Linked DNA regions of Homo sapiens. The protein of the gene in region 2 purifies or fractionates together with the protein of the main gene of each other region. This does not show direct contact. Each region holds a gene or a part of one and is shown on either strand. Other genes may lie near its edges.

Region 1 (3,651 bases), on a different chromosome or scaffold from region 2:
AAAGTAAAAAGTAAAAAATTAGCTGGGCATGAAGGCACACGCATGTAGTCCTAACAACTCAGGAGGCTGAGGCAGGAGGATCGCTTTAGCCCAGAAGTTTGAGGTTACAGTGAGCTGTGATCATGCCACTGCACTCCAGCCTAGGCAACACAGACCGTAACTCAAAAATACATAAATAAATAAATAAAAATAAAGGCCTATTAAAAGGAGAAAATTACTGCCTAATTACCAATTTAAAGTGTAGAAAATTGTTAAAAATTACCACAGCACAGAATTAAGCTTTATCTTTACAAATATTTATTGAGTGCCTATTATATGGGAGGCCCTGTGGGGAGTATAAACGTGTAACAAATGTTTATCAATTACTGTATAAAATAAACTTTATTGGAACTGAAGATAAGACAATTATTGTTCTCAAGATAAACCTAAATTAGTAAAAATAAAAGTTTACAACTAATTTCAAAGTTAATCTATGTCAAAAGCAAGGATAATCCAATCAAAGGCAAAATAGCTAAGGTTAAAACCCTAAGATATTCAGACACATAACATTTTACATAAAGGAAAACTACTAACAGTGTTTTATATAGGTGAAAGCAAACATGTAAGCAAAAGTTAATTTATTTTAAGTCAATGCATATGGAAATATTTTAATTAATTAATTAATTTATTTATTTATTTGAGATGGAGTCTCGCTCTGTCCCCCAAGTTGGAGCGCAGTGGCGCAATCTCGGCTCACTGCAAGCTCTGCCTCCCAGGTTCATGCCATTCTCCTGCCTCAGCCTCCCGAGTAGATGGGGCTACAGGCGCCTGCCACCACACCCAGCTAATTTTTTGTATTTTTAGTAGAGACGGGGTTTCACCGTGTTAGCCAGGATGGTCTCGATCTCCTGACCTTGTGATCCACCTGCCTCGGTCTCCCAAAGTGCTGGGATTACAGGCGTGAGCCACCGTGCCTGGCATGGAAATATTTTAAATATTATGATAAAAAAAAGAAGCATGATTGCCCTCACTGCAACATGTATTAAGCATCTAGGTCAGGTAAGGCACTTTGCTGTTTGCTATTGAATGGCTGGGGAAAGGGAGTGACACAGTTTCTATCCCCCAAATCCAGTATTTCAGGGGATAAAGATTTCCAAAAACGTGTAATAATAATTCAATCTGAGAAAGGCTGAAACAGAGGCAAAAAGCAATGGAAGAAATGGGATAAGCATAACTGGCTCTGTCTAGAGGTGAAGTTGATGTCTGACAAGAGGTTCTCAAGAGTAAATATTTGTGCTAAACCTTAAAAGCTGAGTAATTCTCCGGAGGAAAATATATCAAAATAGGAAAATAAAGAGAAGTGCAGGAAGATGGAACAGTTCAATGAAGTAAGGTTTTGTGAACATTCATAGCCTCTCTAGAGGATGGTGAGTAGACCAGGGTTTTAGGAGATGTCGCATAATATTAGCCCAGGCTAGTCCTGGAAATCCTTGTATTCCACACTAAGGCATTTGGACTTTATCCTTAGATCAGGAACTGTTTCAGAAAGATAACAGACAGCAGTGTGGTAAAATGGAGTAAGAAAGAGAGAATAGAGGCATATGGAATTTAAATGTAAAATAGATAAACGATGAGCAGAAGTCAACAATGAATACTAAAAGGAGAGGACAGTAGTATCCTAAAAAGATATTGGCATTTTTCTTATTCTGGGTTTCCAAAGGCTAAAAAATTTTTATAACATGCTGCCTCCACACAGAAAAACGCTCCTCATTAAGAGCACTGAGTTGCCACAATATTTTTCTAAACAGAACATGTCGTTTGGATTAAAATGAGAAATCCTATTTTGACTTCAAAACAGGCTTTTGAGGAAAATTTTTAAGATGGGTACATTTCTGACCAGTCAACAGTAAAACACCTAAGGCAAGTATAGTTCACTAATAATGATAACTGACACAAAATGTGGATGCCCTACCTTGATAGTCCTGTCCAAAGAGGCACTGGCAAACTGATTGTTATCTTTGGGGTTGATCACAATCTGCATAACATAATGGGTGTGTCCTTCAAACACTTGTGAGCAAGACCATTTTTTATCCCAGTCCCAGAGCTTAATAAGCATGTCATCTAGGCCAAAAGAAAGTCTCAAGTTAGTTGTAATTCTATTTTTTCACTTCATAACTAAGACACAGTCTTTAGAAGAAGCAAACCTAACACAAACCATATAATCCATGACTTACAGAAATAGAATCAAAACCAAATAGAGTTTTCAAAATGCTTATTTATCTTAAAAATAAATTTAACTCTCTACAGAAAAGTGGAGATAAAATAAATAAAATAGATTAGAAATAGAAAATATAAAAATTCTGTGAAAAAACTTAAAAATTCAGTGGGCATTAAAGAATGGCCAAAGAGTAATATAAGTTTGACTAGATCTAAGCATGACTGAATAGTGATAGCAATGACTATGTAGAGAACAAGCATTTGCCCTCACAAGATTGGTTTTTAAAAAGTTTTTAATTACTTCTCAATTTTTAATTTAAAAACATTTCAAAGAGCTATTACTAATTCAGTGCTACCTCTTTTTCCAGTCCTCCAAGAGGTCTACTATTTATACACAATACCAAGGAGCAAACTAGTTTGAATATAAAGATTGAACTGAATAGGGTCTATGGCAATCTGCCAAAAACTCACTCATCAACATGTAAATGACCTTTCTGTTCAGCAGATGTTTAAACATCTAGACTTGTAGGTCTTCTCTGACAGGAACTGGAGCAATCATTACACAAATCCTAAGTACAGTTGATATTTCATTATAGTACAAACACAAGCAGCATCAATAGCACAGTAATGGATCTAAATAGTTTAAAGGCCGCTTGGAATTAGAATTATATTTGTAACAGCAGTTAAAGCATAGCATGTCTCAGTGAATGAAAATGAATTACCCAAAGAGACGCACATGACCAAAAAAGGTCATCTCTTACCACTGCTAGTTAGAATGAAAGGCTGGGTTGGATGAACAGCAATACAGCGAATGTAGTCTGAGTGTGCTTCAAACATATGAACTCTCTCCAGAGTATTGTAATTGAACACTCTAATCTGCATGTCATCCTAGAAACAGAAATTTTAAAACCATCATCCCTGTTATCAAGTAAATTATACAAAAAAACTATATCACAGGCTCAAGGAATAAAGTCTATGCCTCAAAACATTGCTGTAAATAACAAAACAAATCGGGAATCAAAATCCTGCAACAAATTTACACAATCATTGACCAATTCAGAAAATGGGAATAGAGATTCATATTAATTACTTACCGCTCCTGTCACAACCCAATTCTTCCTTGCAACAAACTTTGCAGCTCGAACAGGAAGATCACATACTTCAAATGTCTTCACCAGTGTCTTTAAAATGTAACAAGAATACACAAATTGAGCTATAAGAAAATAACCACAAAATCTACTCTGTTATATTTCAAACATCCAATTTTTAAGATCACTTCTCATTTTAGTATATTCTCAGGCTAAAATATAAAAGCTCAACATTCAAATTTTTAAAAAAGACCAACTATCTTTTAATAGATTCGAAATTAAAACACTTTTTAAAAGATAAGAGAAGGCAAATATCCACAAGATGGTATTCCAGATCCTCTGTGCTCCAGCCCTTCCCTCCCTTTTC
Region 2 (3,651 bases):
GGGCTCACCTGAGATTGCTGGGGAAAAGAAAGGTAAAGTCTGCTTCTTTCCCCGTCTTAGGACCTTGCTCCTCCACTCTCCACAAAAAAATTCTGGCGGGGAGAGCAGAGATGGAGCTAGGCCTTAGAACTCCTGGGTTCGGGGCCCAACAACCCTGTCAACTCTCTCTGGGAACTTGCACAGGTCACTTTCCCTCTCTGGGCCGAGCTCCTATGTGTAGCATTGGATGGATCTCCTCTGCAGCTCCCTGCCTTCGGGACAATGCGCAGTGGATTCAGGGGCAAGGCTCCGGAATTTAATGAGAGCTCACATCATTGAGCTCTACGCTGAGCCCTTTCCTATTATGTCATTTAATTCTCAACAACTCTAAAGGTGGGTGCTTTTTAAAGTCCCATTTTATAGATGAGAAAACTGAAGCACAGAGATATTAATAATTTGCCCATGGCCACATAGCTAGTGAGTAGTAGAACAGAGGCAGAACTTAACATGATGAACCACTACCCCATACTACCTCCCTGGTGAGAACATTCAAAAGACCATGGCAGCTGAAGGAAATCAACGAGGATATTCAAATTGGCCCAGGTTTTTGAAACTGTCTTCTAAGGTTCCTCTAGACTAGCAGTTCTCAAAGTATGGTCCCTGGACCCTTTCGGAGGGTTCCTGAGACCCTTTCGGAGGCTCTACAAAGTCAAACCTATCTTCATAATAATGCTAACAATACATTATTTGCCCTTTTCACTTTCATTATTTCACAGTGTTCAGTAGAGTTTTCCAGAAGGTACATGACCTATGATATTGCAACACACTAAATGCAGAAGCAGATGAGAAAGCAACTGTCTTTGATTAAGCCAGATGTTTAAAAAGACTTGTGAAAATATAAGACAATGTCACTCTTCTTATTAACTTTTTGTTTACTTTAATACAGCTGTTTTTCATTAAAAATACGTCATTTTGTTAACATGCAAAAATTAATAATTATTTCATGTGTCCCAGTGTTCATTTCTAACACAGTAAATGTTCATAGATAGAACCCACACAAACCAAAGCTCTTTGGAGTCTTCAGTAACTTTTTAGAATGTAAAGTGGTCCTGAGGTCAAAAAGTTTAAAAACCAGTGCTCTAGACTCTAATACACTCACCCTCTCCTCTTACCAGTTGCCTATATCTTTTTTATCACAGGGTCAACCGGGAGGTTTAGACACGTGGAGAAGGAGTGTGCCTGGCTCTACCAGTTGGAACTGGGATCAGAAGTGGAGCTGAGGAGGCTGGTCCAGGGAGAATGCAGTGCTAAGAGGTCAGACCTATACCCCACTTGGGAGGTGACCTCACATGTCTGCCACCTTGCAAGCCCCTGCTCAGAGGTATGCTCAGGACAATGGGGCTGCCTCAGACTAGACTCTGACCTTTATCCCCCTTTTTCATTCCAGACGATGCTGCTGACAAGCCCGGCCTCAGGCTGGAGTCAGACTGCCCTGGTGAGGGGAGAAAGGCTCTCTGGGGCCTACATACCTGCATTTGTGTTGGGGGGGTGGGTGGAGCAACAATGCTTAGAAGACTATAAATTGGGGGTTCTAGGGCTTGTAATCTTAGGGTGAAGCCATGTCTACAGGATGGGGTCGTTAGTAGGAGAGGGGTTTCTCTTGAGATCTCCTATAGAATTAGATAATAGGATCCTATACACACCCTGCTGCAGGATGCTCACATAAACCTCCAAAGTCAGGCTCCTTCCCCAAGAATAAGCGATCAGAAATGTTTCCTACCTAGAGTCAAACTGGACAGTAGCTACTCTGTGTCTTAGGAGGCAGGCCCTTTGCTGGGTGCCAGAGGGTCCAGAGAGAGAAGAGATGCCTTTGCCAATCTGACGGAGGTACAGGCCTCACCCTAGAGGAAACCCCCGGCTAATGAGGGAGACAAGTCTCCTCCAACATCGCCATGCATGGAGAACCCTGGGCCAAGTTGCAGATGCAAGTAACAAGCAAGATGGCAGAGCAGAGAGGGAAACAGGAGAATAGAGATCTGCGGGAGGGGTGAGACTTGGAATGGCCTTTGTGAGGGTCCAGAGTGTGGGGAGGAGCATGGCTCAGAGACTGCCTGGGATATGCTCCCCAGGATCAGGGTCTGAAGAGTGCAGTTCCACAAGATATGGGGCTGGAGGGGATGGGAGAAAGGCATAAAGTCTCTTGAAGCCTGTGATTGGGAAATTTTTATCCAATGCCAACAGATGTGTCTGGGTAGAGAAAGGGCAAGATAAAACTGATGCTTCATGATGACAATTCCAGTGATAATTTCATTATAGGGTAACAGGGAAGGAGTCGAGGAGAGAGGGGGCTGGAGTCAGGGAGGTCATTAAGGAGGCTGCTGTGGGCATCCAGGCTGATGGGATGAACAAGCCAATCAGGAGACACAAGAAGAGAAGGGCATATAAACCTGAGAGAAGTTGTGGGGGCAAACCTGGGCCGGGAGAGGGAGAGGCAGGATGAAGAATACAAGAGCGATAGGCAGGACCATGGGAGCAGGAATGAGATGTGGGGGTTGTCTTGACCGACAGAAGAAGTCTCTGACAGAAGTCTTTGGCTGAAAGAGAAGTTGCTGAGAATGGGGAAAGAGACTATTTGGTGAAAGCTCAACCACTCAGTTCTCATTTATTGAATCTGAAGACAGGACATCTGCTTGGCAAAAACTTGTGGAAAGCAGGGGCTGTGGGTGTGGAGACCCCACCTCAAGTGATGCCCAGCCTATTGGAATCAAGGAAGGAAATGCATCTTAAACTGCTTGATAATTCTTCTACCTTCCCAAACTCCAGAAGGGTGGGAAGAAAAAACCTAGGACAGAATCTCAAAACAAAACAAAGCAAAACCCACAAAGAAGGGCTGGGACAAAGCCCAGGAACAAGGAAAGATGACACAGTAGAAAACATTAGAGTGGTGGGAGAAAAGCAATGGCCCACAACTCCACTTTTTACAGACTAAGGACCATTCCAAGCCCCTTACGGTAGTCACTGTGCATCCTCACAGCAGTTATGAGCCCTATTGTGAGGATGGGACTTCCTTAGCTACTAAGTGGTAAACCAGGACCGAATCCCACAAAGTCAGACTCCAAGGCCATGCTCTTAACCATAGTGCCTGCTGTCTCTCAGAGCGGAAAGTAGCCCTGGAACAGCAAGAGAGAGGTGCAGCAGCCACCCAGGGGAGGCCCCTGACAGTTGTCACAATAATCCCTGCACTCTGAGCTCCATCACTCCTCTCGGAAGCTTTAAGGATGGGCTTCTGTGTTTGGGGATTTTGTTGGTGGTTTTTGTTTTGTTTTGGTTGGTTTTTTTGGTCCAGAAAGTGGTCTCTCTTTCCTTCCCAGTCTCCATTTCAAATGTCTTTCCTTTTCTAGGATGTGCTTCCTGAGATCTAACCTAAGTCCTTCTAGCTGCAGCCACAATCCTTTCCCCAGGTGTTGTGCCATCGGAAAAGTTGCACAATGGCCATGTATACCCTTTCTGTGCTGCACCTTGTTGGAGGCTTGAGGTCTGATTCAGTCCTCTTCTAGCTCCTGCTTCTCCAACCTCCTTCTCCATGCCACAAAGTTCTGTTCTTACTTCTCTCTCACATTCCAGAGCCAGCCCCTCCCTTCCCCCACCACCTCAAATCCAGGCTCCAAGCTG

What was found.
Region 1: the proteins of KCNJ10 (region 2) and COPB2 purify together in Homo sapiens (affinity purification with mass spectrometry, with the first as the bait; one large-scale study listed by BioGRID). This does not show direct contact.

Annotation. Positions count from the first base shown.
Region 1 is NC_000003.12:139,376,090-139,379,740, forward strand, and holds part of COPB2 (coatomer subunit beta'), read right to left. Parts: intron 3,378-3,651; coding exon 3,291-3,377; intron 3,085-3,290; coding exon 2,958-3,084; intron 2,101-2,957; coding exon 1,952-2,100; intron 1-1,951. UniProt on the Homo sapiens protein: The coatomer is a cytosolic protein complex that binds to dilysine motifs and reversibly associates with Golgi non-clathrin-coated vesicles, which further mediate biosynthetic protein transport from the ER, via the Golgi up to the trans Golgi network.
Region 2 is NC_000001.11:160,063,558-160,067,208, forward strand, and holds part of KCNJ10 (ATP-sensitive inward rectifier potassium channel 10), read right to left. Parts: intron 1-3,651. UniProt on the Homo sapiens protein: May be responsible for potassium buffering action of glial cells in the brain. Inward rectifier potassium channels are characterized by a greater tendency to allow potassium to flow into the cell rather than out of it.